2 separate regions of the Homo sapiens genome follow, and region 2 is linked to region 1. The links come from fine-mapping of genetic effects on gene expression. Tissue or cell type: whole blood. Region 1 holds a variant in brackets; the other region holds the start of a gene. All regions are shown on one strand. Distances are from middle to middle.

Region 1 (8,104 bases):
ATGGGGAACCTCAGAATGAGTCCAATGGGAGTGAGGAAATGCAAACATTGAAAGGAGAATTGCTGGTGCAGATTTGATGACTTGTATGTTCCCTTCTGATCTGCCTTCATGCGACTGATTTCATGAGCTCTGCAGTTTGGAGAGAGCAATTGTTCCAGGCTCTCTAGGACTGGGAGGGTCACACAATCAGAACCTCATCTAAGGGAGATGCATGTGCCATAGATGAGAAGATGCAACTCTAAGCATTACGAGTCCAGAAAACTTGGTGTTTGCTAATTCAGTTCACTTCTGGTTGGCATAAAGCTACACAGGCCAAAATGACCCTGCCCAAAATGGATCACTGCTTATGTACCCCTCCACCTGTCTGCTAGCCCAACTCACCAGTGACAGCTTCAAGTGGCCAATGAGATACGTGGCCATTAGGAACACAAAAGACACCAGTGCCACGATCAACACATCTACTCCAGAGCCCTCATACACTCAGATGCCAGGGGCTGACTCCCTGCCCTGCCTCACCTGGTGCCACCCTTCCCTGGTCCAACCACCAGAGTCACGCATTGAAGGGCAGGACCTAGGTCTTCTCTCCTAGGCATTTGAGAGCCATTTGGAGAATTAGCTAGGCTGGCTTCACCCTCATCTTTGTATACTTGGCTGCACAGAAGCCCTGAGCAGCTAAGAGCCAATGGAGAAACCTAGAGAAGCAGGAAAGATGAGGTCACTACTGCCCAAAAGGATGTGAGGGGAAACTGGAAAAGGCTTAATCCATGTGGGACCGGGAAAACCCACATGCAGAGCTAGATCTATGTAGGGGAAATAATAACAATATGCTATCTTTGGGTAATAGGGTGGGGGAGGACTTTTTGTTTAACCACACTTTTAGGTTTTTCTATAATAAGCCTATCTTAGTTGAGTATCTCTGAAATCAGAAAAGACTTTAAAAAATTAAGCCAGCTGGTAGCAGAATGACATTACTAGCTCTTGCAGAGGATAAGGCCGTTAACAAGAGCTCCTTCTCTCCCACAGCGGGGGATGGGGGGAAGTAGGAAGTGGGGATGGGGTACCCAGGACCAGAGACTGGAGGCAGCTGTGGGGTGCAGGCCAGCCGGAGCAATGCGGGTGGGGGAGCCGGGATGGGGTGTGCCGAGAGGAGAGGGGTGGGAGGATGGAGTAGGAGGCTCCAGCGGGGAGATAATAGCCTGTTTCAGAAACACCATTGATGTGCTCCCTTTGTCTAGGGTTAGCAGGTAATTCTGAATACTTAAAAAAAACCACATAAACCTTATCCTTCCAAAAAAGATATGAGGGTGTTTTGAAATCAGAAAAGGTTAGAGAAGGGAAGGGAAGCAGACAGATTTTATGCTCTAGTGACAAATGAGATTGCTATTTGTTGAGACCTTCTCCCAAAGCAGAATGAGATGTGTCTGGATAGAGGAGAGGACACGCTTATTATCAAATGAAAAAGGAAAACAGGAAAGCAAAGGCCCAGGTTAAGACAATGAACACATGATAATGGGCAGCAGCCTTCCCAGGCAGGGGCTGGAAATGAGGTAGCCGATGGGGACAGAGATGTGAGAATGCTTCCAAGAAATAAAAGACATGATGCAAACATGTGCTAGCACTTGTGCCTTATCTCCCGAGAGTAGGCAGAACAGAAGATGGAGACTCTCCACCTTTAGAAATCTAACAGTTAGTTTCATGTGCATTTTTTTCCTGGTACAAAACCCACCCTTCTTTCCCATTTTGAAAATACACATTTTCAACCTCCATATCTTGGATAACTAATTCTTTAACCCTGGGGTTTGCACACTGTGTTCCTAAGGTAATGATGTCAATAAATGTCCACTGTGCCGGCAGCTGAGGGGAGGGGCTCCGAGCAGAACTTGAGGAGGCTAAGTTGGACTGTCGGGGCTGCAGGGAGCTGGGTTGGTGGCGGGGACCCATCAGGGCCCTGCTACTGCTTACCGGCACCACCCCTTTACTGTGCCTCAGGGACCTCATTCATAAAATGAAGAGAACGGTAACATCTTCCTTACAGTGCTGTTGTGAGGATTAAATGAGAATCCATGTAAAGTGCTTAGAACAATGTCAGCCACAAAGGAGAGCCCAAAAGATGTTGGCTGTTGTTACTCCAGCACATATGCACAAATACTCATGAAGCAGCAGTGGCTGGTAAGTGCCAAACTCGTGACACACAGAGCGCAGCCTGAGTAGGGTGCGTGCTCAGCGAGGGTGGCCTGGGGAGGCTTCCAGAAGGGGACATCGTGAGCCTGTCGTGGAAGTGCTGGTGAGAAGTGGGAATGGGGTGATCTGGCAGGACAAAGCAGCAGGCCTAGCACAGTGGAGGCTCCAGGTAAGGAGGCAGGAGCCAACAGGGTGGTGGGGTTTGGCATTACAAGGATCTAATCATGTTATAAAACAGGGATCACAGGTTGCAATGAAGCAATGCCTGTGGGGGTTGAACAGTAAAGCACTCAGCAAACCTAAGGCATTAGAATATTTCTTAGTACCTTCACAGCACCTAAGACAGTGCTGTGTTTGAAATAAGTGTTCAACTGACAATTCTATTTTCAGAGAGACCTGCAGTGGAACCTCTCTCAAACCTGGTAGCCTGGGTGAGAAATACCTCTATCCATCAGATAGATGTGTTGAGGAGAAACTTGATGTGAAATGTGGGAAGAATTCAGAAAGGCCCTGACTATTCCAGAAGAGCTGACAGGCTTAGGCAGCCCCTCCCCAGTTCCAACCCGTGGAGACGGGAGGTAGGGGAGACAGACTCCACACCCAACACCCAGGCAGGTCTGATCATCACAGGCCAAAGTCACACCAAATCCTCATGGCTCCTGCAACCTAAATTCCCACAATCCCCACAGTGGCCTAGACTCAAGCCAGAGACAGCTGTGTAGGCAGTACCACAATTCCCTTCCTCATTCTTTCCCCCAACCTCCAGCCAGAGCCCTGCGACCCTCAGGCCCGGCAGATGCCCCGCCCTCTGGGTCCACGCCCACTGACACACACACACCCCACTTACTTCTTCAGCCACTCCACAATGTCCTCAGCTGTGGACCCATAGTTGTCATACTGGAACAAGAACCGTCCTTTCCTGTGAAACGTGGAGAAACAACGTGGGCTCAGTCACGGATGCAAATGCCACCCTGAGATTATGGTCAATCACCAGGGAGGGAGGTGAGCTTTAGAAGGAAAGTGGGGGACGTACTCAAAATAGCAGATGGTGGGGAAGCCGCGCACGCTGTACTCCTCCTTGATGTTTTCAAATTCAGAGGAGTAGACATTCATCCCGGCCAGCACCTGGGAGGAAGCGGAGAAGAGCCGTGTGGAGCCTGTGCCCCACAGACACCCTCTAGTCCACACGCCATCTGTCCAGCTGCTGTCCCACCAGAAAGACATATGGGACAAAGCCCCACAGACTGATGTGCATCAGGGCTGCTGAGAAACAAGGCCAGCGAAGCCAGCCGGGAATCATGACCTGGCGCTGGAGAAGTCAGGCAGCTGGGCCGAGTGCTGCACTCCGCACGCCTGCTCCCTCTGCCTCCCTGCAGGAAGAACCACCCCAGAGCAAAACCAACGTTCTGAGGGTTGCAGAAGAAGCCGGGCCTTGCCATCAAGTTCACATTACTCTCAGAGAGGGGCCACTGCCAAGGATGTGTTACGCCTATTTCTCTGTTCATGTCAACTCGGGTTGTACTCTTTCCTAGGCTATGGAAATAAGTGGCTTTCATACACCAATTCAGCTCTGTACAACGTCCTTAGACACCTTCCTGGATACCTCACGGTTTGCTCACCTAGGCTTGAGTGTGACGTTTCCAAACCTCACAGCTTATATGTGGCCAGGGAGGCCGTGTGGTTCTCATAACACAACATGAGAAACGAGGCACCTGCCTAACTCTCCTCCTTCCAGGCCGTGCTGTGTCTCCCCAGTGTTTCCTCCTGTTGGTGACCATTAC[C/T]CACAGCCTGGCTGGATCATCATCTCAGAATTCTGAACATATTCTGGCTCCAGGGGTCCACATGTCCACTATCCCTGAATCAGAAAGAGTATTTTAGTAGCTGGGTAACCGACGATGTAGCTAAATACTAAGACTGACTCATATAAGGAATCCCCTAAAACTCCCTCTGCAGTGGCATGATCATAGCTCACTGCACCCTCTAACTCCTGGGCTCAAGCAATCCTCCGCTGTCAGCCTCCTGATTAGCTGGGACCACAGACATGTGGCAGTATGTCCGGCTAGTATATTTTTCTTTTTGGTAGAGATGAGGTCTTGCTGTGTTGCCCAGGCTGGCTTCCAACTCCTGGGCTCAAGCGATCCTCCCACTTCAACCTCCCAAAGCACTGGAATTACAGGCATGAGCCAGCATGCCCAGCCAGGACTTTGAATCTGTTCTTACCAGAGAACACAGCTAGAATGGCCCGACACACAAAGGTTGTTCCACAAAGCAGAGTGGCATAGAAGCGAGGGAAAAGTAAGTAAAAAAAGCCAGCAGTAGTTACAGAAGCAGAGAGAAGAAACCCAGGAAGCTGAACTTTACTGAATAATACATAAGGACACAGAGAGAGAGGAAAATAAATAACCGTTTCAGTGGACAATAAATTGATTGCAAAGACAGCTTCCACTTATGAGTCATGTGACCTTGGGCAAGTCACTCACCCTCACTGAGGTCCCTTGCTGGAAGATGTGACCATCAAAGGGCTCTTTAGAGAACTAAATGAGATGAGAGGTTTTAGCACAAAACTGGAGCTCAGTAACTGTCATCTTCCTACCAAGTCTTCCTGGTGATGGGAGCCACTGTGCCTCTGGCCTCTCCATTCCTAGGGGCACCTGGATATCTTTCCAATTGTTTTAAGTCCCTAGCACAAGGCCTCACATACAGCAAGGACACAATAAATGCTCACTAAATTCACTGTTTTTTTTTTCCTAGCCCATTTTAGGATGCAGCAAATAATACAGGAAGAATAAATTTGAATTCGAATTTACTTGAAGCCCTGGAACGCTCTATAAAAGTCATTCTGCTCATTTCCCAGACTGCTCCAGCGGCCTGTTCCAGTAATATTTGTCTTCTTTAAAAGTCCTTTTTTTTTCTGCCTAATTGATCTCCCCAGTGTCAGTGCACATTCACCACAGATTAATCTTACACGTCCTCCTCGCTCATTACATCACTTCCCTGCACAAAACCTTCCAATTCCATTGAATATAGGCTAAAATCCAGCTCCACATTCAATGCCCATATGTTACCTATTTCATTTTTGAATCTTTCTTTCTTACAAAACTCTTCATTGTACACCTGTTAGGGTCTAGATTTTTTATTCTCCCAGGAATAAGACAGTCTGAGATTTCTGCACAGGAAGGAAGTTGGACTGTCTGCCTTCTCAGACATCTTGCTGAGTGCAGCAGCAACATGCAGTGGCTGGAAGCATGGACTCAGGATGCCTGGGTTTGAGTCCCAACTCCCCATGGGGTCGCGCATTTCCTTGAATGAGTCACAGTTGTCTCTGCGTCTCACTTTCCTCATCTGCAGCCACCTCATGTGGTTGTTGAGAAGATTCAATGAAATAATACAAGATAATCAATAACACAAAATGTATTAGCTATTTTTGTTACTAGGACTAGGAGGTGCTCTATTTCTGCCCACACTTCTGGAACACTCGCTGTTCTCTCCTGGCCCCCACTTGGTGCCTTCCAGTCCCCTTACTGAGGCTGCCCATCCCCCGCCTCCTGGCGACCCTCCAGACTCACCCATCCCTTAAGGCAAATCAAACCTCACGTCTCTGGGCAGCCTTTGCAAACCACCTTCGCTTGGGGTGAGCTCTTAATTCTCCAAGTTTCTGTAGCACTTTTGTGCCATTTTGGGGGCATCTATTAGTTAATGAGGCAAAAATTTTTGAAAAACTACATACAAACACTTTCTGGAGTTAGAATTTGTGAAGTCAAATGAGGTGACACACCTGGTCTCGGCCTGTGGAGAAGATAAGAACACAGCCTCCCTGCTCCCCACTGCCATCTGCATGCTTGGGGCCACTCAGCTGGCGTGACATGCTCTTCTGTGTGTTCAGCCCTGCTGCCAGGAACCATCACGGCAGCTTCTTAGCGTGGGCTGCATGTGAGCTTGCACTCAGAGGAGAGTAAGATTTCAACAGACGTCCCGGGATGGGGAACTGGAGGCAAGGCAAAGAAAGATGTGGCCCAAGAAATGGAGCACATTTCCATCTAACTGGAAGGCAGGATACACAGAAAGGAGAAGACATGAAAGAAAAGGCTGAGTGAGTTGGCCAGGATCACTTTGGGAAAGGCTTGAAATACCTAAGAAATCGGGACTGTATTCAGGAAGTGACGGAGAGCTCCCGAGGGTTTCTAAGTAAGAAAGCAACCCTCAAACCAGTTGTATCTCTCGAAGCAGAAAGGACGAGCTATGAGGGAATGCTGTGGTCAGGAGACAAGTCAGCAGCCTTTGGCCACCAGCTAGCATAGCCCACTGGACAGGGCTGGTGGGCAGGGAGAGGATGAAGGGTGCATGAGGAAGATGCCTGATGATGCCTCAGTAAAGAGAGGTGGAGGTGGGGGGTGGGGAAAGAGCCTGGCCCCTGGGGAAAGGACTTAATGCAAAGTTCACAGTCTGCCAGATGGAAAGATACTGAATTTTCAGACATGCATTTGAGACACAAGGGAAAAAATCCAGATGGAGCTGTGAAGCAAGCCATCTGACACGTGGCACTGGCACTTAGGGGAAGGACTTGGGCTCCATGGAGCTACGTTTTGTTGAAGCTATGGACAGAGATGTGGTCACTGGAAGGTAGACTGTAATAAGACAAAACCTTGCTCCAATGTGTTAACAGGAAAGCGGAACCTTGGGAGCACCCCCATCTAGCCGGTGGAAGGAATGTGGTGCAGGGCAGCTGTAGGGAAGAGAGGGGATCAGTCATCTGTGTCTATGAGTGCTCTGTGGGGTACAGGGCTTCTTCCACACAGCCCATTTGTTCCTCACCACAACCCAGTGTGGGCAGGGTTGGCATTATCATCTCCATTTTACAGATGGAGAAATGGAGGCTCCAAGGCTAAGGAGCTTGGACCAAGATCTCCCAGCTGGTTAGCAAGAGCCAGCACTAGAGCCTGGTCTGTACAAATCTGTCGTCATGATGGTTCTATTTCATGGTGTTTATACCCAGACTGGCCCATCATGGCCGAGGTCCACCAAAGACTAGGCAAAGCTCAAAGGCTCAGTGCAGATGTCAATAACTGGCAAGGCTGGGAAGAGGCAGATGGAGACAGGGCTCATTCTGATGGCTGCTCTGAGATGGGGGCAGCGTGGCTGCTAATGAGGATGTCAATTAGCAGGAGTAGATGGGACAGACGCGATGAGTCACCAGACGTCAATGACAGCACAAAAGAGGCAGCTGTAAGTTTGGAAATGGCAAAGGCTGTGCATCCCTGACCTGGCATGCCTTCCTTCCTAATGATGTCAATCAGGTTGAACACCTCCCAAAAAATCTGTAGAGGAGGAAGATTTTTGACCCTTGCCAGAGACAGACCCAGCCAAAAAGGCTCAAAGATGACAGAGATGAAGAAGTGACAGAAGGCCCTAATCCAGCTGTGTTTCAGCAGCGAGGAGGGGGTGAACTTTGATTTCTGGGGAATAGCAGCCCATTTATTAGTCCCACCTCTTTTCTGTGTGTGAAGACAAAAAGCAATTGACACCTGTGGTCACTCAACCCCTCCAGCCAGGTCCCCAGTTTCTGGGGAGCTGCCCCTGCAGAGTAAGCCCTAGCCTCTAGGGGCCTCCTGCGTGGGTGATGCGTGCAGCGGCCAGGGCCCTTCCCTCTTTATGTAGCTGGGAAAGGGCTAGAACTTTCCAGAAGATGCTTTTCTAGGAAATGAAAGGGAAAATAGAACAAAACAAACCCCAAGCAAGAAAATATACAAACAAAGAAATGAGTTTACACAACCCAGATGTCTTAGGCCAAGGCAGCCAACACCTGGTCACAGCTTGACTTGCCCAGCTTTGCAGACAACGCCCCTGACTTTTCTGTAATGTTGAGGGAACTGGAATGGGTAACTTTTATATTTCTAGACCTGGGCCCAGGCAGAAGAAGCTGGAA
Region 2 (8,104 bases), 56 kb after region 1:
GCTCTTTCCTGGGGCCTTCTCTGATCACTCGGTGTCCCACTGCTTGGCCTCGTCCTGGATCCCCAGCACACAGGGGCTGCCACTCTTATGGCACTCAGCCACACTTCCACCTTATATGCCGGGTCTGTTTTAAGACTTCCGCTGTAATGTGTTTATTTCTGTGGGAAATGTGCACTACAGGTTCCAAACAGCATTTTAAATGGCAATTCAGTCCTCAGGCCAACCCACAAAAGCCTATTAAATATATAATCGTCCCAGAGAAGTACAGAACCTAAATAAGTGTACCTTAAAAGCTCTACAGGAGATGCCAGGAACAAACATCTGCCTCCTGCACCTCCACCCACTGTCCTCCAGGGTCTGAGCTTCAAGCGACCATCAGGGGCAGAGGCAGAGAAGCAGGCGGGAGATGGATGAGTGGGAAGAACCCGATTTACATTCAGCAGATCTGGCTCTTCTCCCAGCTCTGCCTTCACTAACTGGGTGGCCTTGAGTGAGTCCCTTCCCTCCCTAAGCCTCGCTATTCTCCTATAAAAGGAGAAGGCTGAGTTAGATCAGTTCTGAATCTCACAGATCAGCAGAATATATATATTTTTAAATATAAAATGGATTTTATATTATTAAAAATAAATTTTATCAAGAAAGGGCTTTTAAAAAGAAATCACAATATACTACAACCAGCCTCATTTTTCAAAGGGATGCTGTAACCCCCTCCCCCTCAAAATATCGTCATGTCAGAAAAATTGACAACTTTTTAAACTGAAAACATTTGCATTCATGAAAAACAAACAAACAAAAAAATACACCATTTTTTTTTTCCAGTTTGACTGCAGACCAGAAAACTCTATCCCAGCCCAGCTTCAGTCCTTGGCCCAATGCTTGAGAACCACTGAGCTAGGAGACCTAGAGTTCACTCCAGCTCGACGTTTCTCCATCCTACAGGCTGGATGGAGCCAACAGGACAATCAGCATGGACGGCCCTAGAGAAGAGTCAGCTGCAGGGATGAGCTGAGCTGGACAGCAGGAAAGCAGGCAGTCAGCGCAGGGATGGGAGCAGGGCAGCATGGCTCGGCAGGGATCGCCCTGTGCCCTAGGGCTACCTCCTGCCCCTGTGTCCAGGAGCACTTGGCAGGGAGGGCACCGCCACCCATAGCCTCTGAGGGCACAGACACCCAGCCTGGAAGCTCTTGGAACTAACCTGTCCCACGTGTTTGACAGTGACACCTTCCTCCCCAGTATTCTTTTGGAAGGCTAAGGGTTCCCAAAGCAACATTTTAAAAAATCTTTATTAACTTTTCTGATTATAAACTAATACATATTCATGTGAAAAACTTGGAATCCACAGAAAAGCATAAGCAAAGAAGCAGAAGTCATCACAACTCCACCTTCCAGAACAATGACTGTTAACATTTTGATGCACTAATTCTTCATACATGTAACTTCAGCCACCCTCAGATTTGGTTTTACATCCTGCTTTTCCCTTACTTATCACACTTGGGCATTTTTCCACATCCTTAGATATTCTTCATAAACATCATAAAATGTTTTCATAATAAACATAATATTCTGGTAAATAAAAATATTCTTTATAAACATTGCAATGGACTGAATATTTCTTCTTCTTCTTCTTCTTTTTTTTTTTTTTTGAGATGGAGTCTTGCTCCATCCCCCAGGCTGGAGTGCAGTGGCGCGATCTCAGCCCACTGCACCCTCTGCCTCCTGGGTTCAAGCGATTCTCCTGCCTCAGCCTTCTGAGTAGCTGGGACTACAGGCGCCCGCTACCATGCTTGGCTAATTTTTGTATTTTTAGTAGAGACGGGGTTTCACCATGTTGGCCAGGCTGGTCTCGAACTCCTGACCTCAGGTGATCCACCCGCCTCAGCCTCCCAAACTGCTGGGATTACAGGTGTGAGCAACTGTGCCCGGCCAGGACTGAGTATTTCTGTCATTCCCCTGAAAATTCATATGTTAAAATCCTAACCCCCAAAGTGGTGGTGTTAGGAGGTGGGGCCCTTGGTACGTAATTAGGTCATGAGGGTGGATCGCTCATGAATAGGATTAGTGCCCTTGAAAAAGGGACCCAAGAGAACTGTCTAGTCTTCTTTCTATCATATGAGAATACAGTGAGAAGTCAAGAGTCTTCTGGAGGAGGGTCCTCACTAGAATTCAACCATGCTGGCACCCTGATTTCGGACTTTTGGTCTGCAGAACTGTGAAAAATACATTTCAATTGTTCTACACCACCAGTCTATGGGATATTTCTTATAGCAGGCCAAACTGAAAAAGATAAATATCACTTTCCATGATATGGACAAGGCCAGATATTATTTAACCATGCCACTATTATTGAGCATTTAACCCATTTCCACATTTTGCTATTGTAAAAAATGTGGTGGGTGTATATCCCTGTACACGAATCCCTGCAGATGCCTTTATACCCTTCAGGTCACAGCCCAGTCCTGTGCACATATCAGCCCTCAGTAAATATTGAGTGAACAAAGAAACCCAACCGGCTTCCAGGAACCTGGGGAGCACTTATCAGATAGATACAGCATTTAAATTTACAAAGACCCAACGCGCTGTCCAGCAATCACTCACCACTGCTCCTGTTGGCATGCTCCCTCCACCTCCTACCCGCTAAGCCAACTCTAGGGCTTAGGGAAAGGAGAAGATAGAAATTGCTTGCTCAGGACTCCCAGGTTCTAGTGCTTTCAGCAAACCTACCTGCTCTTCCGCACCTCCTGGTGAAGGGGACCTGCAGCCCTCCACTGCCTAGCTAACTACCACACATCTTTCAGACTCTGTTCAACCCTACCACCTCAGGAAAGCCATGGCTGACCTCCCTTTAAATCAACGTATGGCTCCGGTTCAGTGAAGGATACTAGTACTTAAGGTCACAGCACTTGCAGTTCTGTCATTATTTGCTCACAGGACTGACTCCTTTGCCCAATCCAGGGCAACACCAGACGGCAGGTACAATGTGTGTTTTGCTCTCCGCCCAAAATCTAACCCAGTGGAGGGCAAAATATCAATCCAAACAATGTGATTGACAAATAAATGTCTGCCGAATGAAATTTCAGATTCTCAAGCCGTTTGTTTTCACAAAAGGGAGGGGAAAGGGAGGAAAGCAGGACCTCCTACTCAGCCCAAGTGCAAAGACCGATGGGGGGCGTTTCAGGAGATAGCTCCCTCCTCCTGGCCCAGAGACCCGCCCAGACCAACTGGCTCCAGGGAACTGATGGCAAACCAGCATTCAACAAACCCAGACGCAATTAAGTGACACTGCCCCACTCCAGCCTGGTTCTCCCCAAGAGGGAGAACACAGACCGAAGAGAACAGGGGGCTTCTTTCCCCACCCACTTCCAACCAGAGAGTACCAGGCCACTCCTCACTGGTGATCCAAAAGGCCAGGGTATTGGGAGATGGAAGTGTTTCAAGCAACTCAACCCACACTTTTCTCCTCCCATTTGCCCAGTGTCCTTGCCACACCCAAATGGAAAAGAACGGGAAAATCTGGGTTGGGGGGAGGGTGCCAGGAACAGGAAGTTCCCTGGAACTTCAGGGGAAAAGGACCAGGATGGTCCTAAAATAAGGGAGCGCATAAGTTATGGAAAAGATGGGGAAGGAGGCCACAATATCTCATCACACACCCACAGCGAAACGAAGGCCAAACCCCAGACCTGGGCCGGCAGGCACACCCATTCCGACCTCTCTCAGGGATGCCTGGAGTCCCCCCCACCAAGTGTAGCAAACTACTCTTGGAGTCCACTCCTTTTCCACTTTTGTAAGATTTTGCAGTTTACACAGCTTCCTCCACTGAGACCTCATCCGACTCTCAGAACCACCCTATGGGGGTAGCTTTGCCTTTCTATATCATGCATGAGGAAACTAGCTCAGATACATTAAATGAACCGCCGCGTCACACAGCTAGAAAGTGGCTGAGGCTCGAGCCCGCCTCAGTTGGGTGTAGGAGCAGCTCCTCCGCCGGGGCGGGCTACGTCGACCCCACCCAGCCCACCGAGCCTGGCCTGTGGGCGGAGGCCCAGGTGGTGGCCCGCAGTTTCCCAGACGCCTGGGGCCGAAGCCAAGAACAAGGTGGCCCTAAACCAAGGTTTCCGGCAGTGCAGGTAGTAAGCACCCCCATCCCACCCCGCACTCACACAGGTGCAGGGCTCGGAGTCTGGAGCGGAGCTCACCCCGCAGCCCGCCGGCGTCCTGCCCGACCGGCTGTGCCCCGACCTGCATCCCCGCAAAGTTGTGGCCGTGGCGTAAGCACCCTGCCAGGGATCTCCCGGCGCCCCACAGCTGCCTCCTGCCCCTGCGTCCGGGAGCGCTTGGCGGCGAGGGCACCGGGACGCCCGCTGTCTCCCGCGTAGCACCCAGTGCCCGCCTGCCTGGCATGCACGCCCTCATCCCGGTGCCCCGGGGCAGCTCCCCGCACGTTCCGCAGAGGGCTGGAGCAGAGAGCGCAGAAGGGCACGCGGGACACACGTGCTGGCCCGGCCCGGATCCCTGCCCCACAGTCTCACCCAGATTGCCAGCAGCAGCCACGCCGGCCCGGCCCGCGCCATCCCAGCAGCGCTGCCCACCGCTGGCTCCTTTCTCCACTCCGGCGCCCGCTCCCGCCCGCCCGCCTGCTAGCTCCACCGCGGCCAACCACCACGGCCACTTCCCAGCCGCTCCCCGCCTCCGAGTTCCCGGTGCCACGTCTGCCAAAGCATGCGCAGCAGCTGGGGAGAGGCGGCCGGGAAGAAGTGCTCGCTGGGAGTTGTAGTCTGCAGCCTGGCTCAGCTGGGGGCTGCGGGTGCGGACTGGGCTCCGAGGCCACGTGGCAGCGAGTGAAGTGCGAAAAGGCAAGGTCAGGGAGTAAGGGAAGGCAATTAATGAGCGGGGGCTTACTCTGTGCCTGGAGCTTCAGAAACAGTATCTCACGCAGCTCACAGAAATTAGGTTTTATTTTCTCCACTTTGAGGATTAGGAGGCAGCGCAGGGAATTTAAGTACGTTGATCCAGATCACACAGCCGGTAAATGGCAGAGTCCAGGGCTGCCTGTGAAGGACAGGAAAAGCCCTCATCCCTGCCTCCCAGACTCCCTCCTGCTTATTCTATTTAACTTCAGTAAAACATTATTGAGCTGTTGGAAAACAATCTGGTGGTTCCTCAAAAAGTTAAACATAGATTACTATATGACCAGCAATTCCACCCTTAGGCTAATACCCAAAAGAATTGAAAACAGGTATTCAGACAAATGCACGTACACCAGTGTTCACAGCAACACTATTTACAATAACCAAAAGGTAGAAACAACTCTAACGTCTGTCAAAGGATGAATGGGTAAACAAAGTGTGATACATCCATCTAATGGAATGTTATTTAGCCATTAAAAGGAATAAAGTGGCCCAGCAGGGCAGCTCATGACTGTAATCCCAACACTTTGGAAAGCTGAGGCAGCAGAATCGTGTAAGACTAGGAGTTTGAAACCAGCCTGGGCAACATAGCAAGACCTCATCTCTGCTAAAAATAAAAATAAAATAAAATAAAATAGCTGGTGTGGTGGCAAGGGACTGTAGTTCCAACTACTTGGGAGGCTAAGGCGGGAGGATTGCTTGAACCTGGGATATGGAGACTGCAGTGAGCCAAGATCATGCCACTGCACCCCAGCCTAGGCCACAGGGTGAGACCCTGTCTCAAAAAAAAAAAAAAAAAAAAAGGTGGGGGGGAGAGAATAAAATGCTAATACATTCTACAATGAATGAATCTCAGAAATGTATGCTAATGAAAGAAGCCAGACACAAAAAGTCACATATGATGTGATTACATCTTATGAAATATTTAGAATAGGTAAATCCACAGAGACAGAAAGCATAGTAGTGGGGGTGGGGAGGAAGGAATGGGGAATGACTGCTTAATGAGTATAGGGACTCCTTTGGGAGTGATAAAACATTTTGGAACTAGATGGAGATGATGGTTCCACAACATTGTGAAGGTACTAAATGCCACTAAACTGTACACTTTAAAATGGTTAATTGATGTTATGTGAATTTTACCTGAGTAAAAATTTTCAAAAGAAAAAAACTCTTTATTGAACCCATTCCCTGTGCTAAAGCAGGGGTCCCCAAACGCTGGGCCTCTGGACAGTCTGTGGCCTGTTAGGAACCAGGAGGCAAGCTGTGGGCCAGCGAGCATTACCACCTGAGCTCTGCCTCCTGTCAGATCAGTGGTGGCATTAGATTCTCATAGGAGTGTGAACTCTATTGTGAACTGCACATTCAAGAAATCTAGGTTGTGGGTGCCTTATGAGAATCTAATGCCTGATGATCCGAGATAGAACAGTTTCATCCCAAAACCATCCCCTGTCCCCCCACCATCTGTGGAAAACTTGTCTTCCACAAAACCGGTCCCTGGTGACAAAAAGGTTGGGCCCTGCTGTGCTAAAGCATTCTTGCATGCAGTCAGTTCATACATTCAAGAATGTTTATTGAACACTTACTATGTCCTGAGGCTCAAGATATCCAGTAGTGAGATGAACAAGAGAACAGCACAGTCAGAGGTTGGTAAGTTATAGCTGAAAGGTCCTTGCCTTCTGTCAGGAGAGTCAAAGCTCAAAACTTAGAAGTTATCCATTACTCGCTTCCTATTCACAACAGGCCCATCCAACCCCTCACCACATCCTGTCAATTTTACCTCCAGAATATATCTCTCCTGCCACCTCCCAAGTCTAAGTGACTATCACCTAGGGAAGGGTAACAGTTTCTGAAAGAGTGTGCCTGCTTCTCCCCCATGCCATCCATATGTTAATGTCAGTTGGATCTTGCTTGCCCCTCCCCTGAAACCCTCCAGTGGTTTCCCATTACCCTTAGAATAAAATCCAAACTCTTCCCAAGACCTGCAAGCCCTGCATGGTCTAGGCCCTCGCCCGCCCGGTAGACCTCATCTCCTGCCTCCCACAACCCCTGTCCACTGGGTCCAGTTACACAGACCATCATTTCCTCACCCCTCCCCTCTCCAGAGCTGCTCCTGCCTCAGGGCTTGTGCTCCTCCCATTCTCTTTGCCTTGGCAATTTCCTTGGCCTTTGTCTGGCTGGCGCCTTTGTATCCTTCAGGGTTCTCCTATCTATCCCCTCTCAGAGATGCCCTTCAGAGCAGCCCATCTACAGGTGAGTTTACCCTCCCCACTGCCAAGCTCCTTTTTCTCTATCTCAACTTCTGCTTAGGTTCTGTTGCTTCTTTGCCCAGCACCTACCAAAACCCACAAGACTTACTGAGTCCTTGTGTTCATTGTCTCTTGCTCCAACCTGAATGTCAGTTTCCTGTCCCTCTGTTCATCACCTTGCTTCCAGGACCTAGCACAGGACGGAGCCACAGATGGTTCTCACTGTTCTTTTTGATGAATGACTGAATGATTGAGCTAAGTAATGTGTTGGGAAGTGTCAGAAATTCCTAAAGCAGTTTGGGGACAGGGCTTCCTTGGCATGCTCTGCTCTGCAACCTCGAACTTATGACCTGCACATGGGAAAGTGAGATTTGCACCCCTCTCTGTGGGTCTCTGTTTCTCATCTGTCAAATGAAGCAGTTGGTGAGGATGCAGAGCTACTGGAACACTCACGCATTGCTGTGGGAGTGTAAATTGGCTCACCTACTTTGGACAACTGTACATGTACAAAATCTGAGCCAAAATGTTCATGGCAGCTTTATTCACAGAAGCTGTTATGGACTTGTGTCCCCCCCAAATTCATATGTTGAAGTCCTAACTAACCCTTACTACATCAGAATATGACCGTACTTAGAGCCTTTGAAGAGGTAATTAAGGTTAAATGAGGTCATTGTGGTGGACCCTAATCCCATATGGCTGGTATCCTTACAAAAAGAGGACAGTAGGACACATATACAGAGGAAAGACCATGTGAGGACACAGAGAGAAGACAGAATGGCCAGTGACACGCCAAGGAGAGAGGCCCTCAGAAGAAATCAACCCTGCCAAAAGCTTGATCGTGGATTTCTAGCTTTCAGAATAATAATAATAATAAAAAACAACCTCTGTCATTTAAGCCACCCAGCCTATGGTGGTCTGTTACGGCAGCCCTAACAAACTGATACAGTAGCCCAA

The links. PIP is the estimated chance that this variant, and not a neighbour inherited with it, causes the effect.
Region 2: it holds the start of PDIA5, and the variant in region 1 is fine-mapped to the expression of PDIA5 in whole blood (INTERVAL, PIP above 0.99).

What each region holds. Positions count from the first base shown.
Region 1 is chr3:123,119,268-123,127,371 of GRCh38, reverse strand. It overlaps PDIA5 (protein disulfide isomerase family A member 5), which reads right to left. Exons shown (of 17, transcript NM_006810.4): 9 at 3,215-3,306; 10 at 3,029-3,100. Among named protein-coding and RNA genes, the nearest start is that of MIR7110, 38 kb to the left of the region's middle. The variant C/T (reference allele first, on the strand shown) is at 3,963.
Region 2 is chr3:123,063,629-123,071,732 of GRCh38, reverse strand. PDIA5 (protein disulfide isomerase family A member 5) reads right to left here and starts at 4,708. Exons shown (of 17, transcript NM_006810.4): 1 at 4,527-4,708. The coding sequence starts at 4,568. RefSeq lists a silencer at 4,414-4,653.